2 separate regions of the Homo sapiens genome follow, and region 2 is linked to region 1. Evidence: fine-mapped expression QTL. Tissue or cell type: subcutaneous fat. Region 1 holds a variant in brackets; the other region holds the start of a gene. All regions are shown on one strand. Distances are from middle to middle.

Region 1 (7,917 bases):
CATGTCAAGAATTGACATCAGGAAGAACAATTCCATTTTGTGTGTGTGTGCAGCCCAGAGAGTGGGATGAGGCCCAGGAGAGTGAAGGGACAGCACAGCAGATGTCCAGAAATGGACTGAGGGCTGCACATATCCACAGAGAGACTTCCACAAAGTCATCAAACCCAGTAACGCCCCAAACGCTCACCAACAGGAGGTTGCGTGAACAAATCAATGGTATATTCATACAATGGAACACGACTCACTAATTTAAAAAGGAAACAACAGCTGCGTACACAACACAGGTGAATCTATTAGGCACATGGCGTGGAAGAAGCCAGACACATCCTCTCCATGATTCCACTTATGTAAAGTTCTTGAACTGGCAAAACTAATCTGTGGTGATAAGAGTCCAAATAGTGGTTCCTTCTTGAAGGAAGTATTGACTGGGAAGTGGCACCAGGGAATTTTCTTTTTAGAAAAAAATTTTGTAGAGATGGGGGTTTTGCTCTGTTGACCAGTCTGGTCTTGAACTCCTGGACTCAAGCAACCCTCCCACCTCGGCCTCCCAAAGTGCTGGAATTATAGGCATGAGCCACTGTGCCTGGCTGGAACTTTCTTGAGTGATAGAAATGTTCTCTGTCTTGATCTGGGTGGTGTTCATGTGGGTTTCTATGTATGAATAAAAATTCAATGAGCTGTACATTTAAGACTCGTGTGCTTTACTGCATGTTGAGTATATGTCAGTTACAAAAGCAAATTGATAATGGCTTATTCAGAGAAAGGAGGAAAGGAAGAAATGGAACTGGCCTCGCAGTGCCAAAGCTGGATAGGCGTTTTACAAGGGTAATGTAGAATATTAGTGTGGTAGGCAAAATAATGGTTCCCCCAAAGATGTCTACAGCCTAATCCCCAGAACCTATGAGTATATTATTTGGCAAGGGGGCATTAAGGTTGCAGGTGGAAGTAAGGTTGCTAATCAGCTGCCTTTAAAATAGGGCTCTCACCTGTAACCCCAGCACTTTGGGAGGCCCAGGTGGGAAGGTAGCTTGAGCCCAGGAGTTAGAGACCAACTTGGGCAACATGATGAAATCCCATCTCTACAAAAACTACAAAAATTAGGCCGGGCGTGGTGGCTCATGCCTGTAATCCCAGCACTTTGGGAGGCCAAGGCGGGTGGATCACATGGTCAGGAGTTCAAGACCAGCCTGGCCAATATGGTGAAACCCCGTCCCTACTACAAATACAAAAATTAGCTGGGTGTGGTGGCAGGCACCTGTAGTCTCAGCTACTCGGGAGGCTGAGGCAGGAAAATCGTTTGAACCTGGAAGGTGGAGGTTGTAGTGAGCCAAGATCACGCCACTGCACTCCAGCCTGGGTGACAGAGTGAAACTCTGTCTCAAAATAAAAAAAAAAAAAGAAAATTAGCCAGGCATGGTGGTGCTTGCATGTAATCCCAGCTACTCGAGAGACTGAGGTGGGAGAATCATCTCAGCCTGGGAAGTTGAGGCTGCAATGAGCCATGATGGTACCACTGCACCCTAGCCTGGGCGACAGAGTGAGACCCTGTCTCAAAAAAATAAATAAAACAAATAAAATAGGGAGATTATCCTGGATTACCTGGGCGGGCCTACTATAATCACATGGGTCCTTACATGGGAAAGAGGGAGACAGAAGAGTAAAAACCAGAGAGATGGCCTCATGAGAAGAATCCGACTGGCATTGCTGGCTTTGAAGATGGAAAGGGGTCATGAGCCAAGGAATGCAGGCAGCTTCCAGAAGCCAGAAAAGACAAGATAGTGGACTCTTCCTTAGAGCCTCTCAAAAGGAACACAGCCCTGCTGGCACTTTTAGTCCAGGTAAAAACTTCCAGATAAAAACAATATAGGCCAGGCGTGGTGGCTCATCCTGTAATCCCAGCAATTTGGGAGGCCTAGGCAGGCGGATCACTTGAGGTCAGGAGTTCAAGACTCAGCCTGACCAACATGGTGAAACCCCGTCTCTACTAAAAATACAAAAATTAGCCGGGCATGGTGGCGCAGGCCTGTAATCCCAGCTACTCGGGAGGCTGAGGCAGAAGAATTGCTTGAACCCAAGAGGCGGAGGTTGCAGTGTGCCAAGATCGTGCCACTGCACTCTAGCCTCCATCTCAAAAAAATAAATAAAGACATAGATGACAGCTGAGAATTTGGAAATTGATTCTTTAAAGCAACGGTTCTCAAAGTATGGCCCCTGGACCAGCATCATCTGGGAACTTGCTAGAAATGCAGACTCTTGGGCCACATCCCAGATCTACTGAATCAGCAACTCGGGGGGCAGAGGTAGGGTGGAGCCTAGCAAACTTGTAACAAGCCCCCCAGGTGGTTCTAAGGCTCACTGAAGTTTGAGAAGTACTATGTTAGGATAACGGTAAGGTTCATGACTGGACAGTGGTTCTTAAAGCATGGCCCCCAGATAAGCAGTTTCAGCATCACCTGGGAACTTAGGCAAATCATCAGGTCCCACCCCAGACTCACCGAATTGGAGACTGTGTTTTAACTAGCCCCCCAGGTGCTACTGCTGACGCACGCTAGCTAGAGTTTGAAGACCACTGCCTAAAGCTCTCCCTGCCTGACCACCCCTGGAAAAGCTTCACTCTTAGTAGGTATTTGTACCCTTATTTGTAAAGCCCGCTTCTTGGGATTTAAGGACAATCAGTAGGATACCTACTGACCAATACAGGTCTGGCTTATAGTAGGTGTTCTGTGGGAGTTCGTTAAATGATTAATTTAATACAACTCTGAGGAAATTGGTGAAGTAGATGTGGGATTCGAACCTAAGTCCACCCGGCCTCCACTATTGGGACTCAAGGGAGCTTTATTTCCGCTGCCCACGCGCCGCCTGCACGCCCGTTCCCTCTCCTCCCGGGAGGGGGCGCGCCAGGACCCTAAGAGGCCTGGCTGGGAGGCGGGACTTCCTGCCTCCGCAGGAGGCACTTCCGGTCCAAACCGGAAGACCGTGGGTAGCTGCGGCGGGGCTGACCCGTCCCGAGTGCCAAAGCTGGGGTTCTACTTGAGATTTCCCTCGTGGTGCCAGGGTCCGGCGAGCATCACGCCGAGGCCCATTTTCCAGACGACCACGACGAGGCCGGGGTCACGTAAGTGCACGCATGCGCCCCCTCCGCGCGGACTGCGCGTGTTCGAGGAGCGGACCCGCAGATGTAGGAGGGGAGGGACGCCCCCAATCCCCAGTCCCCGCGGCAGGCTCACGTTTCGCAGTCCCCGGCCTGTCGTTATTGCGGATCCGACTGAGTTCTGTAGCCTTGGAGGTCTAAAGGGTCCTGGAGAGCCCGCAGCGAGGGCGGGAAGCCGGCCGGGGAAGTCGAGGCTGCCTTGTCTGAGGGCTTTTGTGGGGTCGTGCTCTCCACCAGCGCCCTCCGCCTGTCTAGGATCGTTTCAGGCTATGCGGTTCCAAGAGAAAATATTTTTGTTTCTATTTTATTTTTGAGATAGAACCTTGCTCTGTCACCCAGGCTGGAGTGCTGTGGCATGATCTTGGCTCACTGCAACCTCTGCCTCCCAGATTCAAGCGATTTTCGTGCCCAGCCTCCTCGGTAGTTGCGATTACAGGTGTACACCACCACGCCCGGCTAATTTTTGTATTTTTAGTATTGACAGGGTTTCACTGTATTGGCCGGACTGGTCTCAAACTTCTGGCCTCAGGTGATCCGCCCGCCTTGGCCTCCCAAAGTGCTGGGATTGCAGGCGGGAGCCACCGCACCCGGCCAAAGGGAAAAGATTTTTGTATAGCGAGACTCTAATGCTAGCGTTTGCATTTCGGTGCATGCGAGAGCACTGGTTCGGAGCTCTGCCTCTGAATCGGATGGGAATCAAGTCTTGGCTGTGGCAGCTAAGAGCTGTTGGACTAAAGTTCTTGCTGAGCCTTCGTTTCCTGAACTCTGTTAACAGGGACGGCGATAGAAGAGTGCAGCATTTAGCATGTGCCTGGCAGATAGATGCTGGCGCTTGGTCAGCGAGCGCTGCTGTTATTTTTGCCCCTGTTATTTTTGTTAATTAAAAAGGAGGGATGCTATGGCTGCTCATACTTCTAGAGGACTGTATTTACCAAAGCCTTGTGATGTAATTTTTTTTTTTCTTGAGATGGAGTTTCGCTCTTGTTGCCCAGGCTACAGTGCAATGGCGCGATCTCAGCTCACCGCAACCTCCGCCTCCCGGCTTCAAGGAATTCTCCTGCCTCAGCCTCCCGAGTAGCTGGGATTACAGGCATGCGTCACCACGCCCGGCTAATTTTGTATTTTTAGTAGAGACCGGGTTTCTCCACATTGGTCAGG[C/G]CAGTCTCGAACTCCCGACCTCAGGTGATCCGCCTGCCTCGGCCTCCCAAAGTACTAGGATTACCGGCGTGAGCCACCGCGCCCGGCCCCTTGTGATAGAAATTTATTTTTTTCAACCCCTAGTGCATTTTCTGGGAGGCACTGTGCTTGACAGTAGGAAGACGATGCTCAGATGCAGTCCCTGGCTGTGGAGTAACTTGAGCGTCTTGGGGGTGTAGTCTGTAAATGTATGATGACGGTACTTACGAGCCGGGAGAGAGGCTGCCCCTTGCCGTCTTTCTGACTCCATCTCCACCGCTCTCCACCTCGCTCACTCTGGCTGCCTCATTTTCTCACACACTTCACTGCTCTAGGATTTTCACAGTTGTTGACCGTTCGGCCTGGAACCCTCTTCCCAGTTGCGTACATGGTTCTCTCCTTCACTAGGTTCAGGCTGTGCTCAAACGCCACCTTCTCAACGAGGCTTTTCCTGGCTGGCTTTGCTGAAACCACGCCCTCAGCCCACTACCAGATCCCCTTCTCCTGGACGGGTGGTTGGCTTTAATACAGTTCTCACTACTGCTTGGCCTTGGGCTACATATTTGTTTTTTGTTATCTGCTTCCTCAAAGAACATATGCTTCCCGTAGTGCACTTTTCACTCCTCAGGAACTCTGGCGCCCCTTACCAGCTTCCAGTCTCTCGAGGTGGCCAGTGTGGTGCTTGGTCCTTGTTTCCAGGATGGACTTCCCCAGCTCCCTCCGCCCTGCATTGTTTCTGACCGGCCCCCTTGGTCTGAGCGACGTCCCTGACCTCTCTTTCATGTGCAGCTGGCGAGACGCACTGACTCTGCCAGAGGCCCAGCCCCAGAACTCAGAGGTGAGGATGCAGGCAGGGGGCCCTGGCAGCTCCAGGGACATCCCTTCCCTGGGTCCCCCGTCTCACATTCACATCAGTTGACAAGGCCACAGAGTGGTGGCATTCACACGAGTCTGCTGAGACACAGGCTCTGCCACCTCCTCTGGGGTACATGGGCTACCCTGCCATCCCTAGACGGATGCCCCCACTATGCCGGGTCCCTTATGAGACCGTGAGAATGCTGCCTGAATCAGTCGGTTGACCCCTCCCTTCCTGGAACGGAGAGCTGAGTTGAGCGAGAATAAACAAGTGAACTTTATCCAATGGATAAGGTGTTTACAAAATGTGATCAGAGCTTGGAATGAAAGCAGAAGGATGCTGAAACAGCATAGTAGGGTTGGGAGAGGGGAGGATAGACCTGCAGGGTTTCTGCTGCCTCTGGAGGGACACTGGCCCTTTGCTTGGAATCCTCAGCCGCCTAGTTCCCCTTGGAAACACCCTGTCTGGGAATGAAGCCTGGCAGAGGCAAGTGGGTGAGCAAATAAAAAGAGAGACAGTGGAGCAGAGGCTTGGGGAACGGGGGTCAGGGATGGCATCCTTACGAGGGAGGGTCTGGCGTCAAATTGGGGCTCCTCTGGGAGTCTGGTTTCCTAGCTCTTTTGTCCCCTGAATGTCTGGGCCGAAACATCCCAGGCCAGCCCAGCAAAGGGAGGTGGAGCCGCCTGCCGGGCTCCCAGAGTGACTGCAAGGTCTCCTGAATGGAAGTGAGGTTACGTGAGATGTGGACCAGCCACTGGTGGCATGAGGGGCTTCCTTCTTTGAGAGCCAGCACAGGTGGAGGTCGGAAACAGGAGCTCTGGGGTCAGGCTGCCTGGGTTCACATCCCAGCTCTTCTCTTTACCGGCTCTGTCTTCTGGGGCAAATGGCAGTGTGCCTCAGTTTCTTCAGCAGTAAAATGACAATGCCAGTCATCCCAGCTTCGCAGGATTGTTGTGAGGATTGGATGAGTTGATAAGAGATGAATGCCTGTGCACAGCCTGGCCCAGGGAGGGCATTCATCATGATACTGTCCTTGCGATTGTCCTCCCTTCAGAATGGGGCACTGCATGTGACCAAGGACCTGCTGTGGGAGCCGGCAACCCCTGGGCCTCTCCCCATGCTGCCTCCCCTCATCGGTAAGGGTCTCATTCCCCCGGGCTCACTCCACACTGCTCCACCTATTCTTCCCACTGCTCCCGCTCCTGAGACCTTCCTCTCCCTGCTAAGCCTGTGCCTGCTCAGGACCCTTGGATACCTCCAGTCGCCCAGGGCATCTGGCCGCACTCCTGTGCCCTCCCCAGCCCTTTCCGTAACCTCCTTCTCAGATCCCTGGGACCCTGGCCTGACTGCCCGGGACCTGCTTTTCCGCGGAGGGTGCCGGTATCGGAAGCGGCCCCGAGTCGTGCTGGATGTGACTGAGCAGGTGAGTGGGCCCACGGGGGACAGTGCTGCGTAGCCTGGAGACTGTGCTTAGTGACCTGGCCTCCTCTTCTCCCCAGATCAGCCGGTTCCTCTTGGATCATGGAGACGTAGCCTTTGCGCCCCTGGGGAAGCTGATGCTGGAGAATTTCAAGCTGGAGGGAGCGGGGGTGAGTGGCCCGTGACTCCAGGGGTGGGGACTCCCTGCTGTCCTTCAGGGGTGAACTCGAGGGTGTGTGAGCCTGACAAGGCCTTTCCATGCAGAGCCGCACTAAGAAGAAGACAGTGGTCAGTGTGAAGAAGCTGCTCCAGGACCTCGGTGGACACCAGCCCTGGGGGCAAGTGGCTGATGAGAAAGGAGGAGATGGATAGGCATAGCTGGTGGTGGGGATGTAGGAGGTGCTAGGACGCACGTACAGCTTTCCGTCATACCCACTTCCCCCCTGCTCCATGCAGTCTGAGCTGTACTTTCTTATACCAGACTTCCAACTCCAAATCATCTCAGGGGAAAGCAGATTTACATTTGTGGAGTTCAGGCACAGCTGCATCCAGGTGTTCAAATAATGTTCATAGAGCTGTGTCTCTCTTTCCTGTCTCGTCCACTTGCCTCTCCCTGCACAGTTCCCTAGACAGGCTGTCTCTAGGTAGCAGCAAGATGGCTTATGATCTAAGGAAAGAGCCAGTGTCCTTCCTGCGGCACCAGAAGTCCCAGAAAGGACTTTGGTTGGCTTGGCTTGGGTCTCACACCCATCTGTGAACCAGTCACTGTGGCAAGGGCAATGGAATATTGTTGGTGGCCAGGTCTGGGTCACATGATTGCTTCCGGGGCATGGGAACAGGATGGGGTGGTCTCCCAAAGGAAGAAATTCTAGGTAAATAAGAAATGTGTCCACTGCACTTGGCCTCCTTGGGATGGGACCTGTCCTCCCCTGAGTGCCACCGAGTGATCCTCCTGCTGTTCTCTGGTCCCCAGGTGTCCCTGGGCTTACCTCAGCAACCGACAGCGCCGCTTCTCTATCCTCGGGGGCCCCATCCTGGGCACGTCGGTGGCGAGCCACTTGGCAGAGCTGCTGCACGAGGAGCTGGTGCTGCGGTGGGAGCAGCTGCTTCTGGATGAGGCCTGCACTGGGGGCGCGCTGGCCTGGGTTCCTGGAAGGACACCCCAGTTCGGGCAGCTGGTCTACCCTGCTGGAGGCGCCCAGGACAGGCTGCGTATCCTTTCTTGCGAGACAGGAGATTCCAGCGGGCTCGCCTCTGGTAGAGGAGGTGCTCTTGGCATGGTCCAGAGAAGGGCAGGAATTTGGGGGGCTTGCAG
Region 2 (6,398 bases), 42 kb after region 1:
TTTCAATTCTTGCTGGCAAAACACGGGTATTTGTTTTAATGTTCTTTGTTCTTTTGTCTTTTAAAAAATTTCTGAAGCCAGGTGTAGTGGAGCATGCCTGTAGTCCCAGCTACTCAGGAGGCTGAGGCAGGAAGATCTAGCCTGGGTAACATAGTGAGATTCCATCTCTTAAAAAAAAAATCATAAAAAGGAAAATCACATGAAAAGAAACAAAAATAGTGAGAATATCTATGATAACAATAACATGAGCACATTCAAATGAATAATTTTTTTAAAGGTCATTCAAAATTGGCCAATTCAACCGCACTTAACTTTAAGAGCTGTTGTCTGCTGCTTTCTGTGTTTGTGTGGTCTATTGAACAAGACTAAAGGCTGTGCGTGTGGGGACTGGTTCTTAAACTCATCAATTTTGCATAGAATGCCCAGCCACAGGAAGCAACAGATAAATGTTTGTGGAAAAAATAAAGAATAAGCGCTCAATATATAAATATTAATATGTAATTAATAACAAGAGCTACCATTTAATAATGGCCCACTATATGCTGGGACATTTAATTATAATTCTCTCCTTATACTCCTGTATAATTATTCCAGCTTACAGATGAGGAGACTAAGGCTCCGAGAGGTTAAGCTCTGGGCCAACAGCCATAAAGCTGGCCAGCTGCTGAGCCTCAACTTGAACCCAGTGTCAATGGCTCCAAGACCAGTGTCTTTCCACTGAGTAATGCCAGTTCCCTATGGCTCCTCATACAAGGTTCATCTGGACAGTTGATGCTTAAGATATATTTGTTGCCTGGAACACAAATCAGCTGGTTTATTTGTTGCCTGCGTTCAGAAACTGGAACACAAATCAAGTGGTTTTTTAATGTAATCACTAAAAGGTTTCCTTTAGGGCACCAAGTCTAGTGGGAGCAGAAGCTGAAGCCAGGCTTCCTTCTTTCCTTTTTTTTTTTTGAGACGGAGTCTTGCTCCATTGCCCAGGCTGGGGTGCAGTGGTGTGATCTTGGCTCACTGCAGCCTCAGCCTCCCCCTTGGCTCACTGCAACCTCTGCCTCCGGGGTTCAGGGAATTCTCCTGCCTTAGCCTCCCAAGTAAGTGGAATTACAGGAGCACGTCACCACGCCCTGCTAATTTTTGTGTTTTTAGCAAAGACAGGGTTTCAATATGTTGGCCAGACTGGTCTCGAACTCCTGACTTCAGGTGACCCACCTGCCTCTGCCTCCCAAATTGCTGGGATTACAGGCGTGAGCCACCGTGCCTGGCCATGAAGGTTATCTTTCAAGTCCATTCTGGCAAACTTTGGTGAGGGGATCACACACTGACCCCAGAACCAAGTCTTCATTCGGACTCTCTACCCTAGGTCAGGCACTGGACTAGACTCCAAATTCAATCAAGATGTCTTGCCCTGACACAACATGCAGTCTGGAGGGAGAGAAAGCCTTTGATCTTACATAGTGATAGCAATAAAGGGACACATTTAAAGCATCAAAGTTGGGACCAGGGAGAATAGCGTGGTGGGTTAGGGCTGGGGCTCTGGAGACCCAGACTGTCTGGGCCTGAGTCTGGTGGGTTTTGTTTGCTTGTTTGTTTGTTTGTTTGTTTGAGACGGAGTCTCCCACTGTCGTCCGGGCTGGAATGCAATGGCGAGATCTTGGCTCACTGCAACCTCCGCCTCCCGGGTTCAAGCGATTCTCCTGCCTCAGCCTCCCAAGTAGCTGAGACTACAGGCGCCCGCCACCACGCCCAGCTCATTTTTTGTATTTTTAGTAGAGACAGGGTTTCACTATGTTGGCCAGGCTGGTCTCGAACTCCTGACTGACCTGATGATCCGCCCGCCTCGGCCTCCCAAAGTGCTGGAATTACAGGCGTTGAGCCACCGCACCCGGCCAAGTCTCTTCTGTCACTGACTAGCCGAGGGTTATCTGTTTGGTGCAAGTTTTGTAACCTCTTAAGTATGTTTCCTCCTCAGTACGAAATGGCGAGAGAAGCCCCTACTGCAGAGCGTTGCTTGCTACCATTATTATTATTGTTATTATTTGGCTGTGAAGATCGGGTATGTGGTGTGGGAAGGGGGCTGGAGCGCCTAGCCGTGTCTGCCCCTCGCCCACCGCCCTCCCTGGGGGGCAGTCGGCACCTTCCTTGCAGCCCCCTCGGCCTGCGCTCCCGTGGTCACCCGCAGACTCCTCCACGCCGGGCTCCTGCGCGCAATCCAGCTCTGCTGCACCACCTGTCGCAGGCTCCGAGGGCTCAGGGTGCATGTTTACTTCGGCGACACCGAACGCCCCGCAGCTTTGGGGGGCCCAGGTTCGCGGCGGACGTCGCTACGGCCCCAGCCCAGCCAGAGAGTACCCTCTTTCCTTCTTCGCCAGCCGCTGGCGCCCTAGTCTTTACAGCCCAACGCTTCCCCGGTCGCCCAGGCAACCGCTGCGCACGCGCACTCGGGACGGACCGGCGCGCTGGGGACGCCGGGGGGTGGGGGCGGGTCTGAGACGGCTCCGCCCCCGGCGCGTACGCGGGTCACGTGAGGGCGCGGCGCGGCAGCAGCTCCGGCGGCCGAGACGGGGGCGGCGGCCGCGCGGGTCTGGCGGGACCGGTTTGGAAGACTTTGCCGGCCTGCAGGTACCGCGCCCCCCGCGCCCTGGGCGCCCTCTCGCGGTCCTTTCGCCCCAGACCCCTCCTCGGTCCCCTCAGCGCCAGCCGGCTGCTTGGCGAGACCCCTCTGAGCTCTCACCACGCCCCCCAGGCCCCGGGCCCCCTCCGCTGCATCCGGCCCCGAAGCCCCTTGGCGCCCCTGACCCCAGGAAATCTTCGTCCCTCCGTCCCGTGAGACTCCTTCCTTCAGACCAAAAAGCCCCAGCCCCGCCCCTTCACATCTCAGAGCCCCCCTTCCCCCGGCTCCATCCTCACGCCCCCCGCCGCGGCGCTGCACCCCTGTTCTCTCTCTTCCCCCGGGCCTTGCCCCCCAAACCGCGAACCCCGTTGTCGCCGGCGCATGCCCTGCCCTCCCTGCAGCCTCTCACCCGGCTCCTCCCCCGAGCGGCCCCAGCAATCGCCTCCTTTGTCGGTGCTTCTTTATTCTCATTTCTGAACGATTTGGTTTGAGTTGTTGTTGCCGTGTTTTTCTAAAATGGAAATATGCAGCGGTCGTGGGTTCAGCCAGGATTTCCGAGTTTGCTCGTGTTGACTGGGCCTTGCCGGGTGCTGGAGGGGAAGGGCTGGGAAGAAGAACCAGGCAGGTCCCCGTTCTGAACGTGCCACCCAGACGCAGCCCCAGAAACCGGATCGCTGCAGCGCCCCTCGGCGATCCCAACATGATGTGTACAGGTGACTGCGAGGCAGTCGGGGGGTCTCACAGTGGGCTCCCTGGACAGGACTCTGCGCCTTGCTATACCTCCATCTGAATTGCAGGTAGCCCCTTTCTGAGTTGTGGGGTCTTGGGTGTGCGACTTTACATCTATAAGACTCAATTTCCCCATCTATAAACGGGAGAGTCTGACTGCGCTTTATAAGATTAATGAGAGAATAAAGTGAGACAATAGGAATAAAGCACTTAGCAGAGTCTTTTGCATAAAGTGAGCTCTCAATTTTACTCTGACCGCCACAGGAGAGAGAGAGAGAGAGAGAGGGAGGGAGGGAGAGGGAGAGGGAGGGGGAGGGGGAGGGTGTTGATTGATTGATTGATTCAGACAATCTCGCTCTGTCGCCCGGGCTGTAGTGCAATGGTGCCTGCGATCTCAGCTCCTGCTACCTCTGCCCGCCATCCCGCACCCCGGGCCCAAGTGATTCTCCTGCCTCAGCCTTCCGAGTAGCTGGGATTACAGGCACGTTCTACCACACCCAGCTAATTTTTTTTTTTTTTTTTTTAGTAGAGACGGGGTTTCGCTGTGTTGGTCAGGGTAGCCTTGAACTCCTGGCCTCAAGTGATCTGCCCGCCTTGGCCTCCCAAAGTTCTGGGGTTACAGACATGAGCCACTGTACCCGGCCAAGTTTGTGGTTTTAATCACTGCTGGAATATTCTAGGGCAACAGAGTTGAACATATTGGTGCTACTTTTTTTTAAAGTAGGTTTTCAAAAATCGAAATGACTTACGCATGACATAAAATTTATCATTTTAGCCATTTTACAGTGTATAACTCAGTAGTTCTTGCTATAGTCACAATGCTATGCAACCATCACCAGTAACTAATTCCAGAACATTTAATCACCTACAAAAGAAACCCCAACCCCATTAACAGTCATACCTCTTTTCTCCCCCTGTCCCTCAGCAGCCCTAAGTTATCTTCTGTCTCTATGGATTTGCTTATGCTGGACATTTCATACAAGTGGAAACATACAACATACGGCCTTTTGTATTTGGTTTCTGTCCTTTAGCATAATGTTTTCAAAGTTTATCCATGTTGTAGTATGTATCAGTACTTCATGCTTTTTTATGGCTGAATAATACTCCTTTGTGTGGATAACACCACATTTTGCTTATTCATTCATTTGTTGATGGACATTTTGTTTGTTTCTGCCTTCTGGCAGTTGTGAGTAGGCCACTGTGAACATGCAAGCAGGAGTTTTTATGTGAGCAAAAGTTTCTAATTATCTTGGGTATCTGCCTAGGAGTGGGGTACTCTGAATATTTTAATTCTTACTGCATAAATACAGACATGATGGTGAAGAGTGTTGGATCTTGGATGAGAATCCAGGTTTCTAATTCCATGTTGCTGCTCTTTAGGCTCAGCTTCATTGTGCGTTTAGTCCTATACCAAAAATTGGCAGTGAAGGTAAAGACATCCCAAAAAGTCTTGATACACCAATGCTAACTTTGTCATAGTGCTGACGCAGAGTATGAAAAGCTTAAGTTTTTTTCTCAAGAGTGAAATTTGAGCTTTGAACACAAAGCAGTATTTGATTCTGTTTATTAAATAAAGTTGTCTACAGCAGCATGTCAGGTGCTGAGGAGGAATATTAAAGATGTGTGAGATCCGGCCGGTCACATCCCAGTGCTTTGGGAGGCCAAAGTGGGCGGATCACAAGGTCAGGAGTTCAAGACCAGCCTGGCCAATATGGTGAAACCCCCGTCTCTACTAAAAAAGAAAAAAATACAAAAATTAGCCAGGCATGGTGGCACACGCCTGTAGTCCCAGTTACTTGGGAGGCTGAGGCAGAAGAATTGCTTGAACTTGGAAGGAGGAGGTTGCAGTGAGCTAAGATCGCGCCATTGCACTCCAGCCTGGGTGACAGAGTGAGACTCTGTCTCAAAAAAAAAAAAAAAAAAAAAAAGATGTGTGAGATCCCAGCCTCACACCATCACAAAACGCCAGGAGGATTAAAGACTTAAACTGAAAAAGCAAAAATGTAAAATTTCTAGAAAATAATTCGAAAAAATTTCTTCATGACCTGAGGCTAAGGAGGGATTTCTGAAATAAAACAAACCCTAAAGCAGAAAGATTGATATATTTGTCTCTTTCAAAATTAAGACATTCAGCCAGGTGCAGTGGCTCCCACCTGTAATCCCAGCACTTTGGGAGGCCAAGGCAGGTGAATGGTTTGAGCTTACGAGTTTGAGACCAGCCTGGGCAACATGGTGAAACCTCATCTCTACACACACAAAAAAAATTTAACTGGGCTTGGTGGTACATGCCTGTGTCCCAGCTACTTGAGATGCTGAGGTGGGAGGATGGCTTGAGCCCGGAAGGCGGAGGTTGCAGTGAGCTGTGATCATGCCACTGCACATCAGGCTGGGCAATAGAGCCAGACCTTGTCTCAATAATAATAACAACACATTTAGTTCATGAAAGACACTATAATGAGACACAAAACATACAGAGAGCTAGTATCTAGAATATTTAAAGAATTCTTACAATTCTGAGAGAAAAAAAAGGAAAGGACAAAAGATAGGAACGGGCATTTCATAGATTACAAAACACAGAAAGCACATACATATAAAAAGGACTGCAGCCTTACTAGTAACCAGGGAAATGTAAATTAAAACCATAATGAGATACCATTTCACAGCCACCCTGTTGGCAGAAGGTGAAGCTTTGGACGCTACCAGCCAGTGACATTGAGGAGTGGCACGAACCTGCTGCTGGCGGGAGTGTGAATGGGTTCTGCCGCTTTGCAAAAGCATTTGGCAGTGGAATGCATGTGGACCAGCAGTTAAACCATGGGCAAATCCCTTTGCGAACTCTTGCACAGGTGTGCAGGAGATGGGGACAAGCGCTCCCTGCAGCACTGTTCCTAACTGTAAATCAAAACCAGCAGAAACAGTGCACGTGCCTAGCACCAGCAGCAGGGGGACCTGTGAATCGTGGTGTATCTGAACCAGCAGCAGGGGGACCTGTGAATCGTGGTGTATCTGAACCAGCAGCAGGGGGACCTGTGAATCGTGGTGTATCTGAACCAGCAGC

The links. PIP is the estimated chance that this variant, and not a neighbour inherited with it, causes the effect.
Region 2: it holds the start of DNAAF1, and the variant in region 1 is fine-mapped to the expression of DNAAF1 in subcutaneous fat (GTEx, PIP above 0.99).

The regions. Positions count from the first base shown.
Region 1 is chr16:84,182,099-84,190,015 of GRCh38, reverse strand. TAF1C (TATA-box binding protein associated factor, RNA polymerase I subunit C) reads left to right here and starts at 2,959. Exons shown (of 15, transcript NM_001243156.2): 1 at 2,959-3,115; 2 at 4,956-5,165; 3 at 6,238-6,319; 4 at 6,509-6,606; 5 at 6,683-6,772; 6 at 6,867-6,940; 7 at 7,576-7,814. The coding sequence starts at 5,028. RefSeq lists a silencer at 2,764-2,973 and an enhancer at 2,619-3,119. The variant C/G (reference allele first, on the strand shown) is at 4,310.
Region 2 is chr16:84,141,301-84,147,698 of GRCh38, reverse strand. DNAAF1 (dynein axonemal assembly factor 1) reads right to left here and starts at 2,391. Exons shown (of 12, transcript NM_178452.6): 1 at 2,135-2,391. The coding sequence starts at 2,258. It overlaps HSDL1 (hydroxysteroid dehydrogenase like 1), which reads left to right and starts at 2,522. Exons shown (of 6, transcript NM_031463.5): 1 at 2,522-2,619. RefSeq lists silencers at 2,338-2,787, 2,948-2,997, 3,048-3,097.